3 linked regions of the Homo sapiens genome follow. The protein of the gene in region 3 interacts with the protein of the main gene of each other region in a pairwise test. Each region holds a gene or a part of one and is shown on either strand. Other genes may lie near its edges. The genes, in order: POR, TMEM98 and RABEPK.

Region 1 (3,650 bases), on a different chromosome or scaffold from region 3:
TGGTCCTGATCGTGCCCGTCATAGTGCCTGGCACGAAATACGATCAACGCAAACACTACACAGCTCCTATCCCTCAGGGGCAGTGCTAGGTGAGTTTATAGACTCTTCCTCATTTAAGACAAAAGCCCCACAAGATTGGGAATACTGCCTCCATTTAGCAGGTGAGGAAACTGAGGCAGAATGAGGTTAAGGTCTCGCCCAGGGTTCACTCACCACTAGAGCGTAAGCTTGATGAAGACAGCATTCATCTATTTTCTTCACTGCTGCAGCCACACACCTTAGCATAGTGTCTGGGACACTGTAGGTAGGGCCTCAGGAAATGTTTGCTCAGTGAGTCAATGATGGAGATAAGATTGAACCCAGTTTTGTTTTGTTTTGTTTTGTTTTTGAGACGGACTCTGTCTCCCAGGCTGGAATGCAGTGGCGCATTCTTGGCTCACTGCAACCTCTGCCTCCTGGGTTCAAGCGATTCTTCTGCCTCAGCTTCCCTAGTAGCTGAAATTACAGGCATGCACCACCACGCCCAGCTAGTTTTTGTATTTTCGGTAGAGACGGGGTTTCGCCATGTTGGCCAGGCTGGTCTCGAACTCCTGACCTCAAGTGATTTCTCCCGCCTCGGCCTCCCAAAGTGGTGGAATTACAGACGTGAGCCGCTGTGCCTGGCCCTGAACCCAGTTTTTAAAAATGTAAAACTAATTCCCTGTCCATGGTATAAGAACTGTGTTGTGTGAATATCTGCTTTACGGTGTGAAGGCTGTAAGTGTTCTGGCGGGGAAGGCTGATACCCAGATTGGAATAGGGAATCGGGATTTGATGTGAGCGGCATGCTTCACCATGCCCAGCCTTGGAGAATGACTTTTCTGTGTGGCTTGTTCCTGCCAAGACAGCCACAGCCTTGGACTGGAACTGACATGACAGATGGCCCCCACTGGTGTCAGCACCAGCCCAGGGTGGCCCTGGGGTGCAAGCTAAGGCTGCAGCTGGGACTGGGTCCCCTGAAGACAGACAGAATGAAAGGGGTTCTGGTCTGAGAATGGCTCCCAATCCTGCCCCTGAGACCTGCCCCTTGCCAAATCCAGGGAGTCCCTGAAGGCAGCAGGCCCGTGCCCCTGGAGTTCCCTCGGCTCAGACCTGACCTGGCAGGTCCCCACTCAAACCTGGCTGCGGGCCCCTGGAGTCTGAGACTGGTGTTAAACACAGCCAAGCGTAACCGCAGGAAGTAATTCTGGCCGCAGGACCCTAAAATCTGGAGAATGACTTTTCCGTGTGGCTTATGGAAATCAATCTTGGAGAGACAGGGATGCAGTCACTTAGGCAGACCTTCGGTATCATTTTTTTCTGTCTACATACCATCTATACTATTATTTCCTTAACGTTTTTCTTTTAACTAATCCATCTTTTTCACTTATTCTTAAAAGGAAGCTTCATGAAAAGTTTAAAAGAGCAACAAAATAAGGCCTGTCCAAAGATTTTGTGCTCATTAGCACATAGCCTTCCAGGTGGCTACAGCCTTAAAAAGACTTTAAAATGCCAATTCTAGGCTGGGTACAGTGGCTCACGCCTGTAATCCCGACACTCTGGGAGACCAAGGTGTGCGGATTGCTTGAGTCCAGGTGTTCGAGACCAGCCCGGGACATGGCAAATCCCTGTCTCTATAAAAAAATACAAAAATTGACTGGGCGCAACGGCTCACACCTGTAATCCCAGCACTTTGGGAGGCCGAGGTGGGCGGATCACTTGAGGTCAGGAGTTTGAGACCAGCCTGGCCAACATGGTGAGACCCTGTCTCTACTAAAAATACAAAAAATAGCCAGGCGTGGTGGCGGGCACCTGTAATCCAAGCTACTCAGGAGGCTGAGGCAGAAGAATTGCTTGAGCCTGGGAGGCAGAGGTTGCAGTGAGCCGAGATCGCACCGCTGTACTCCAGACTGGTTGAAAGAACAAGATTCTGCTTCAAAAAAAAAAAAAAAAAAATTAGCTGGGCATAGTGGTGCACACCTTTAGTCCCAGCTACTCGGGAGGCTGAGGTGGGAAGACTGCCTGAGCCTGGGAGGTGGAGATTACAGTGAACCTTGATCGTGCCACCGCCATTGCACTCCAGCCTGGGCAATACAGTGAGACCATGTCTCCAAATAAATAAATAAATAAATAAATGGAAAAAAGGGTTCCAGCTCTAGCGCTGCTATTGCTGGCTAATGACCCTGGCAGGCCCGTTAACATTCTTGAGCCCCCGGTTCTTAATCTGTAAACTGGTGTCATTTTCGCAGTGCTTCCTGTGAAGGTCATATAAACAGCAGATAGAAAAGGGCCTTATAAACCCCACATAAGAGATGATTAAGGGAGAGCTCAAGCACAATCTAGCAAGAAGGCAAAACCCAAGAGTCACCCCAAAATGCTACAAGGAGCCTTGCTTCTTTCAGCCTGAGGCCCGCATGCAGGACACTGCTTGGAGTGGTGACAGAAGAGGGACAGAGAGAGGAGGCTGAGAGGCGGCACTTACAATGTCTGAATTTTGGTGAACTCGGGGACTTCTTCTTTTTTCTTTCTGAAGAGGAACCAGTAGGTTAGGAGACCCACGATGAGCGAAAACAGAATCATGTCCGTCATGCTGAAAAGAGATACTTCTTCGGCCACCGCCTCGGACACGGTGGAGCTGGTGTCCACGTGGGAGTCTCCCATGTTGATCATGAAACTGTTAGGAGACAGAAACAGCAGATGTCAGCAGAGGGTAGCAGGGTGCCCCTGAGGCTGGCTGGGGTGCCCACCTAAATGCTGGGCCTTGCCCCTGGGGCTGCAGGAAATGGTCACTGCACGGGGTAGGAGAAGGGGCTCACTCAGCCAGGTTCCTGCCAAGACAGCCACAGTCTTGGACTGGGGCTGACATAACAGACAGCCCCCAGTGGTGTCAGCACCAGCCCAGGGTGGTCCTGGGGTGCAAGCTAAGGCAGCAGCTGGGACTGGGTCCCTGGAAGACAGAGAAAATGACAGCCACTGACTCTCAGTGTGCTGGAACATCCTCTAATCCCACAAGGACACCGCACGGGGGGCAGGCGGGAGGAAGTGCACGCAAGAGTGGACCATTTCGCAGCAAACCCTTTCCCCAGCTGTGTGGCTGGCGGGGGTTGCCCTAAACCCTGCATGTTCCAAGTCTCCAGGCCTGGCCCTTGAGTGGCTCCTGATATTCACGAGCCTTGGACTATCCTGACTGGCAAGAGTGTCTCTGTATTCCTAAAACCTTGGGCTATGAAGGTAGTTCCTGTTAACAATGAGATTTATGGTGAATGCCTGCTTTCCTATGCCTGGGAGTCTTTTTTTTTTTTTTTTAAGAGACAAAGTCTGGTCCCTCCCCCTCCCCCTCCCCCTCCCTCTTTCCACGGTCTCCCTCTGATGCCCAGCCGAAGCTGGACTGTACTGCTGCCATCTCGGCTCACTGCAACCTCCCTGCCTGATTCTCCTGCCTCAGCCTGCCGAGTGCCTGCGATTGCAGGCGCGCGCCGCCACGCCTGACTGGTTCTCGTATTTTTTTGGTGGAAACGGGGTTTCGCTGTGTTGGCCGGGCTGGTCTCCAGCTCCTAACCGCGAGTGATCCTCCAGCCTCGGCCTCCCGAGGTGCCGGGATTGCAGACGGAGTCTCGTTCCCTCAGTGCTCA
Region 2 (3,481 bases), on a different chromosome or scaffold from region 3:
AGTTCCTCAGCTTCAAACCCAAACCTGCAAGGGAGAGGAGAGACCCAGACGCCTCAGGGACCAGGCAGATAATACAAATAAATGAAACAGGCCAGGTGAGAGAGTACAAGTCTTGCCAAAAGAAGAAACCCCTACTTAGTTTCAATTGATTGTCCTCTTCTGAAAATGCAGATCAGAATTGCCACACATTCTGACCGATCGAGAGAGGCCAGAAATTCTAATTTTAATGTGAAACCTCTTGATTTCTTAGACGGTGGCTCAATTTTCTTGAAAACACTAGGTGAGCTAAATAAAGCTGACAGTCCACCAGTTTTCAATACTCCTCTTGCAGAGAGTGAATGGCATCTCCCCTAACTGTAGTATTAGACTGCCACTCACCAGCCACAGTTTGCAACTGCAAAAGAGGCATAAACTGACGGGGATCTCCTGCTTTACTATGCACACACAGCTGAACTCTCCAGCCGTGGAGAACAACTAACTCTATAGGAAAAAGTAGAAGGCTAAGCTGAGCCATCCAGGGATGGCGGCAGGGGCCTTCATGGCTAGCTGCTGGCCTGTAGGCACTAAATTGCAGACTGCTCCTGCAGGAAGCCTTCAGGGCCTGGGAGGCCTTTATCTGGCTCAGAAGCTAGGGCTGCTTCTCGAAGGACTTCCAAATGCTCCTCAGCAGCCGACAGAGACTGGTCAATCCAGTCCAGGCCTCCCGTCAGATGGCAGGCATTCCTTGTCACCAGCACCAGGTGACTGACAGACAGGAGCAGGGCAGTCGTCCTAGGGAAAAAAAGAAAATAGGGTCAGGTTTCCTAGGAAATGAGGGACTTTGCACAAAAGCCCAAATAGATAGACTTTTTGACTAGTATTCCCCAAACTGCACACCCTTCCCTAGGATGTTGGTAGGTATGCAATTTAAAGTTGGCTCCATGCTCAAATAAATTTGGAGATGGCTGGGTTAAACATGGTTAACTGAAGCCTGCCTCAGAGCCTTCTGAGATGTACCTGGTAAAGCTCCAAGGAGAATATAACAGGCTGTCTCTCACAAGCTTATTTAAGACTGTGGAAGCCATTTTCTGCAGCACACCTATTAACATCTCCCCAAAGAGCGCTTTGTGAAACAGTTCAGATATAGTCAATCAGATGAGCATATTCCCCAACCGCTGCCCACTGAAACATAGGACAGACACACCCTCACTTAAACATTCCTTATTGATTACAAATTGGTAAGGCCCAGGGCTGGTTTATCCAACTCAAAAAAAAAAATGTAACTGAAAACCAAAGTGAGGAGTAGATTTTTCAGTGCTGAAAGATTCACTGTAGAATACCTTTTATATGGTTAGTACCATGATGCATTTGAGAATACATTACAGATTATTAACCCACGGACAAAGCTCGGCAGCAGTAGGAGTGGGGCAGAGAAACCAAAGCTGAAGCGCTGTGACCCACTGCCGATCTGGCAACTGTTACATGTGTATGACACAGTCATATAAATCCAAGGCACGAAAGAATCTATATTTCTTAAATGGGTTGCATCTGGTATAGGAACATAACAATTTCATAGGGCTAAGTACACTCTGTGTATGCGCATGTCTGGTGGCAGGTGAGCACAGCTGTGGCTGACCTGTCACCTCCATTCTCACTGCTCTGGGAACCACTGCCCCACCGCCCAACTGGGTGGCACTCACAGCTAAGGCATGTCTGCTTCTGGGGTACAAAAATCAGAGGGGGAAAGGGGAAAAGGTAGAAGGGAAGGCACAGTTAGGATGTAACATGGCCGGAAGTCTAATCATAACAATTTAAAATCTAAGACTGCCTCTTTCTTCTCCTGGGTTTCAGGAGAGGACTGGCCTCTATCACCCAGTCAGGCGCCGCTCACTGAAGTAAATGGCACGCATGGCCCGGGCAGCCTAAGGAGGCTGCAAAGCCACCCTCCCTACACAAGCCAGTCAGCCAGCCTCACAGATCTGATAAAACGGTTGTGGACCTCTGCATGAAAAACCGAACATGCACCCACCCCTGGTCTCACCGTGCGTCCAGGAGTTTGGGGTCCAACGGAGGGTACATCGACTTCACAACATCATCCACCCTGACCGGAGGCAAAAGGTGTTCAGTACTTCACTTTCCTGATCTCCTTTTCTCCTTTTTTTTTTTTTCCTGAGACAGAGTCTCGCTCTGTCACCCAGGCTGGAGTGCAGTGGTGCTATCTCAGCTCACTGCAACATCCACCTCCCAGGCTCAAGTGATTCTCCTGCCTCAGCTTCCCAAGTAGCTGGGATTACAGGCACGCGCCACCATGCCCAGCTAATTTTTGTATTTTTAGTAGAGACGGGGTTTCACCATGTTGGCCAGGCTAGCCTTGAACTCCTGACCTCAGGTGATCCACCCACCTCAGCCTTCCATAGTGCTGGGATTACAGGCACGTGAGCCACACGCCTGGCCCCTTCCTTCCTTTCTATCTTTATTCCAGTTCTTCTTTTTTGGTATTCCAGACCTGGTCTTTAATGGTTCTTTCTCCAATTGCTTCTGCATTCTCAGACAGACACTTAGGCACAAAGACTTCAGGTTCAGTCTTTGCAGAGACTACTTTGTTTTCTAGTTTTGTTTCAGTTCCAATGGTTTTTTAAAATACAGTCATACATATGGAATGATGTTCAAGATTACTACTATATTAAAAAGGCAAATTGCCAAATAATATGTAAAGCTCAATCTGTCATTTGCATAAAAATAGATAAACAAAAGCTCTGAAATGTGGGGTTGGGAAGGATCTGGAGGAACACTCACCACTTAATAGTGGTTTTTTCCTACAATTGGGAGGGAGTAGACTTTCCAGGTCATGTATGTCTGCAGTATTTCACATTTTTATAAGCATTAATTACTCTTGTATTCAGGAAAAAAAAATACAAAGCTAAAGGTATGTAAGACACCGAAAAAGAAGGCCATGAGTTTCATTTGGCTTCACACTGCTCTACTGGATTTCTTCTACCCTGTGGTTAATTTTTTTAAATCAAGTTCAGAACTACAATTCATTCTGATTTGCGTGGCACAAGGTTTTGCTCCAAATCTTTGCTCATGAACACTCGATAGGAAGAAAAAATAAAGATGTATTGTTTGATTTCTAAAAGCACTTGAAAAAAAGATGGCCTCAAACACTCTTATTCACGGCTGTGGAGCCGGTGAGGACATGCAGAGACACAGTCACCCTCCGCGCCTATCTCAGCCAGCTCCTTTCTCTAGTGCCCTGGAGCTGAAGCCACCTCCTCGAGACTCACAGGCCATCAACACACTGTGTGGGATAAATGGAGCAGGAAAAACAATGGGGACAAAACATGGCCAGAAGGAGAAAGAAGTGTGAGGGCAAAAGGACAAAGCAGGACCCTGGCTGAATTATGGCACGGAGCATTCTAGAAGTAGTCCAAGGTACTCTTTAGGATGGGCCTGTGAGCACCAGAACAGGTCCACTCTCTGGACAATGCCACACCCTCATCTT
Region 3 (3,650 bases):
TATTTATTTATTTATTTGAGATGGAGTATTGCTCTGTTGCCCAGGCTGAGTGCAGTGGCCCAATCTTGGCTCACTGAAACTTCCTCCTCCTGGGTTTAAGCGATTCTCCTGCCTCAGCCTCCTGAGTAACTGGGATTACAGGTGCATACCATCATGCCCGGATAATTTTTGTGTTTTTAGTAGAGAAAAGGTATGTTGGCCAGGCTGTTCTCGAACTCCTGACCTTAAGCGGTCCACCTGCCTCAGCCTTCCAAAGCTCTGGGATTACAGGTGTGAGCCACCATGCCAGGCCTCACTATCCCTTTTTAAATGCCAATTTTGCTGTGGGAAAAAGATATCAGCTAAGAGATATAACAAAGAAGTCTAGAAGTGAGACACTTAGTCAGGCTTTCCTTTTCTAACTTCTGCTTCCTATATTAGGTAATGTGTAAACTGGGATGGCCCTGACCAGCCCCAAGGTGCCCACCAGTCCATACTTGCGTCAAACACATGCAGCTTCGTGTCCTGCACGGGCTGGGCACCTCTCTCTCCGCCCCCAAAGACATATAGCTGGTTTCCAATGGCTGCCGATGATGTGTGGAATGTTCTTGGGGATGGTGGGGGGCTGGTCACTTCTGGCGTGGTCCACGTCCTGGTTTCTGGGCCAGAGAGAATGCAGGCACTTAAAATATCCAGGTAGAGGGGCTTCTGACCTTGACTCTGGGGCTGAGTGAAGTCAGTTTCCAAACTCCAATCCCCAGGGGGGCCAGCATAGTTTTGGGCAGGGATCTCATACTCACAAACATCAAGGAAGAATGAAGATGATACTTAGGATTTGCCAAGACAGTCCAAAATCCCCAAGATTTAAAAGCTGTAAGCACAAGAATGGAGTCAGGCTGGGTGCAGTGTGGCTCATGCCTGTAATCCCAGCACTTTGGGAGGCCAAGGCGGGCGGATCACTTGAGGTCAGGAGTTCGAAACCAGCCTGGCCAACATGGGGTAAAACCCCATCTCTACTAAAAATCTGAAAAATTAGCCGGGTATGGTGGTGGGGACCTGTAATCCCAGCTCCTCAGGAGGTTGAGGCAGGAGAATCGCTTGAACCCAGGAGGTGAAGGTTGCAGTGAGCTGAGATTGCACCACTGCACTCCAGCCTGGGTGACAGAGCAAGGCTCCATATTAAAAAAAAAGAAGAAAAAAAAGAGGTCAATTTGTTTTGGAGGCCTTCAAATATCCTCTCTGAACCCTCTTCTACTTTGCTCACTATCGCTCCCCCTAACATCTGCTAACATTCATTCCCACTAGATGCCAGAGTCCAGGTGTGCCAGATTTCCCAGAAAATGTGGCCAATAAAAGAAAGTAGGCAGGCCATGTGCAGCAGCTAACACCTGTAACCTCAGCAGTTTGGGAAATCGAGGTAGGAGGATTGCTTGAGCCCAGGAGTTTGTGACCAGACTGGGAAACAAAGCAATATCCTGTCTCTACAAAAAATCAGCCAGGGGTGCAGTGGCTCACGCTTGTAATCCCAGCACTTTGGGAGACCAAGGTGGGTGGATCACTTGAGGGTAGGAGTTCTAGACCAGCCTGGCCAACATGGTGAAATCCCATCTCTACTAAAAATAAATAAATAAATAAATAAAGCCAGGTGTCGTGGTGGGGACCTATAATCCCAGCTACTCAGGAGGCTGAGACAGGAGAATCACTTGAACCAGGAGGCGGAGGATGCAGTGAGCTGAGATCATGCCACTGCACTCCAGCCTGGTTGACAAAGCGAGACTTCATCTTAAAAAATAATAATAATAAAATAAAATAAATTAAAAATTAAAAAAAATTAGGCTGAGCACAGTGGCTGTAAGGCCTGTAACCCTAGCACTTTGGGAAGCCAAGGCAGGAGGATTGCTTGAGCCCAGGAGTTTGAGGCTGCAATGAACTATGATCGTGCCATTGCACTCTAGCCTGGGTAAAAGAGTAAGACCATATCTTGAAAAAAAAAAAAAAGAAAGAAAGAAATGAAAAAAAAAAAAAGACAATACTATTACATTTCAGTAGCAGTAATAACAGTCCCTACTAAACAGTAAATGCTAAACAAATATTAATTTCCGCATTTTACAGGTAAGAGAATTGAAGTAGGGATGGATTAAGTAACTTTTTAAAAGAGACATGGCTAGCCAGGCTCGGTGGCTCATGCCTGTAATCCCAACACTTTAGCAGGCTGGGGCAGGTGGATTGCTTGAGCCCAGGAGTTTGAGACCAGCCTGGGCAACATGGCAAAACCCTGTCTCTACAAAAAAATACAAAAAAAAATTAGTCGGGTGTGGTGGCGTATGCCTATAGTCCCAGCTACCTGAGAAGCTTAGGTGGGAGGATATACTGAGCCTGCAGCGGTTGAGGTTGCAGTGAGTCAAGATCACACCACTGCAACTCCAGCCTGGGTTACAGAATAAGGCAAAGAAAGAGAGAGAGAAAGAGAGAGAGAGAGAGACAGATAAAGTGACATGCCTAAGAAATGGCTGAGTTGGAATTTAAACTCTTTCAGTAACACCAAGATCTTTCTAATTCCCACTCCTCTGACTGGAGAATAAAATTTCACCACCTAGATAGATGTATAGAAGCTTATTTCTTTTAAGGATGAACCTGGGTTTTATAGAAGCAGATGCATTAATTGAGCACCCTCAATGGGCAGCATCATTGCCCTGGGCACTGCCATCCCTGGTGTCTTCACTCAAGCTTGGGAAGTGAGCGGAAGTATCTCTACTTTTAGATGAGGAAACTGAAGCTCTGCACATTTAAATCCTTTCCTGCAGGTTATAGCATATGTGCGTAGCAGAGCAGGAGTTTGAACTCAGTTCTTTTTTTTTTTTTTTTTTTTTTTTTTTGAGACGGAGTCTCGCTGTGGCTCCCAGCCCAGAGTGCAGTGGCGCGATCTCGGCTCACTTTGCAAGCTCCGCCTCCCGGGTTCACGCCATTCTCCTGCTTCAGCCTCCCGAGCAGCTGGGACTACAGGCATCCGCCACCATGCCCGGCTAATTTTTTGTATTTTTTTTTTTTTTAGTAGAGACGGAGTTTCACCGTGTTAGCCAGGATGGTCTCGAGCTCCTGACCTCCTGATCTGCCCGCCTCGGCCTCCCAAAGTGCTGAGATTACAGGCGTGAGCTACCGCGCCGGGCCTGAACTCAGTTCTATCAGAGTCCCACACTTGCTCTACCATAACACACCAAGAAATTCTGTCTTTTGTAAAAGGTCTACATCCAATATATAAAATGCTACAGGAAACATCTGTAATATGTGTGGGACTCAAATGGGGACCTGGAGACTGAAAAAGTCTCAGCCTATATCCAAAGCAAAATGTAGCTGTCTCTATAGTTACAGATGTTGGAGAGCTTTTGGATCTTAGAGGGAGCTAGAAAGGTATACATGTCACCTCCAGGCCCAGAAGACCCTAGGGCTGTATTCCTGCCAACTCAAACACCAGCACAAAGAATCACAAAGGAGTCCTGAGCATTTGAGGGACTTGCCTTGGTAACAAATGCAACTAAGTACATATTTCATATTTCTTGGGCATGATGTCAAATTATATTTTCTAGGAGAGAAAAGGGATATGATAGAAAATCACCCTCTTTAATATAAAAATTAGCTGGGCATGGTGGCATGTGCCTGTAATCCCAGCTACT

What was found.
Region 1: the proteins of RABEPK (region 3) and POR interact in a two-hybrid assay, tested with the Homo sapiens proteins (one large-scale study listed by BioGRID and IntAct).
Region 2: the proteins of RABEPK (region 3) and TMEM98 interact in a two-hybrid assay, tested with the Homo sapiens proteins (one large-scale study listed by BioGRID and IntAct).

What each region holds. Positions count from the first base shown.
Region 1 is NC_000007.14:75,953,031-75,956,680, reverse strand, and holds part of POR (NADPH--cytochrome P450 reductase), read right to left. Parts: intron 2,693-3,650; 5' UTR 2,680-2,692; coding exon 2,501-2,679; intron 1-2,500. UniProt on the Homo sapiens protein: This enzyme is required for electron transfer from NADP to cytochrome P450 in microsomes. It can also provide electron transfer to heme oxygenase and cytochrome B5.
Region 2 is NC_000017.11:32,938,076-32,941,556, reverse strand, and holds part of TMEM98 (transmembrane protein 98), read right to left. Parts: intron 2,081-3,481; coding exon 2,021-2,080; intron 772-2,020; coding exon 564-771; 3' UTR 1-563. UniProt on the Homo sapiens protein: Functions as a negative regulator of MYRF in oligodendrocyte differentiation and myelination. Interacts with the C-terminal of MYRF inhibiting MYRF self-cleavage and N-fragment nuclear translocation.
Region 3 is NC_000009.12:125,217,527-125,221,176, reverse strand, and holds part of RABEPK (rab9 effector protein with kelch motifs), read right to left. Parts: intron 639-3,650; coding exon 477-638; intron 1-476. UniProt on the Homo sapiens protein: Rab9 effector required for endosome to trans-Golgi network (TGN) transport.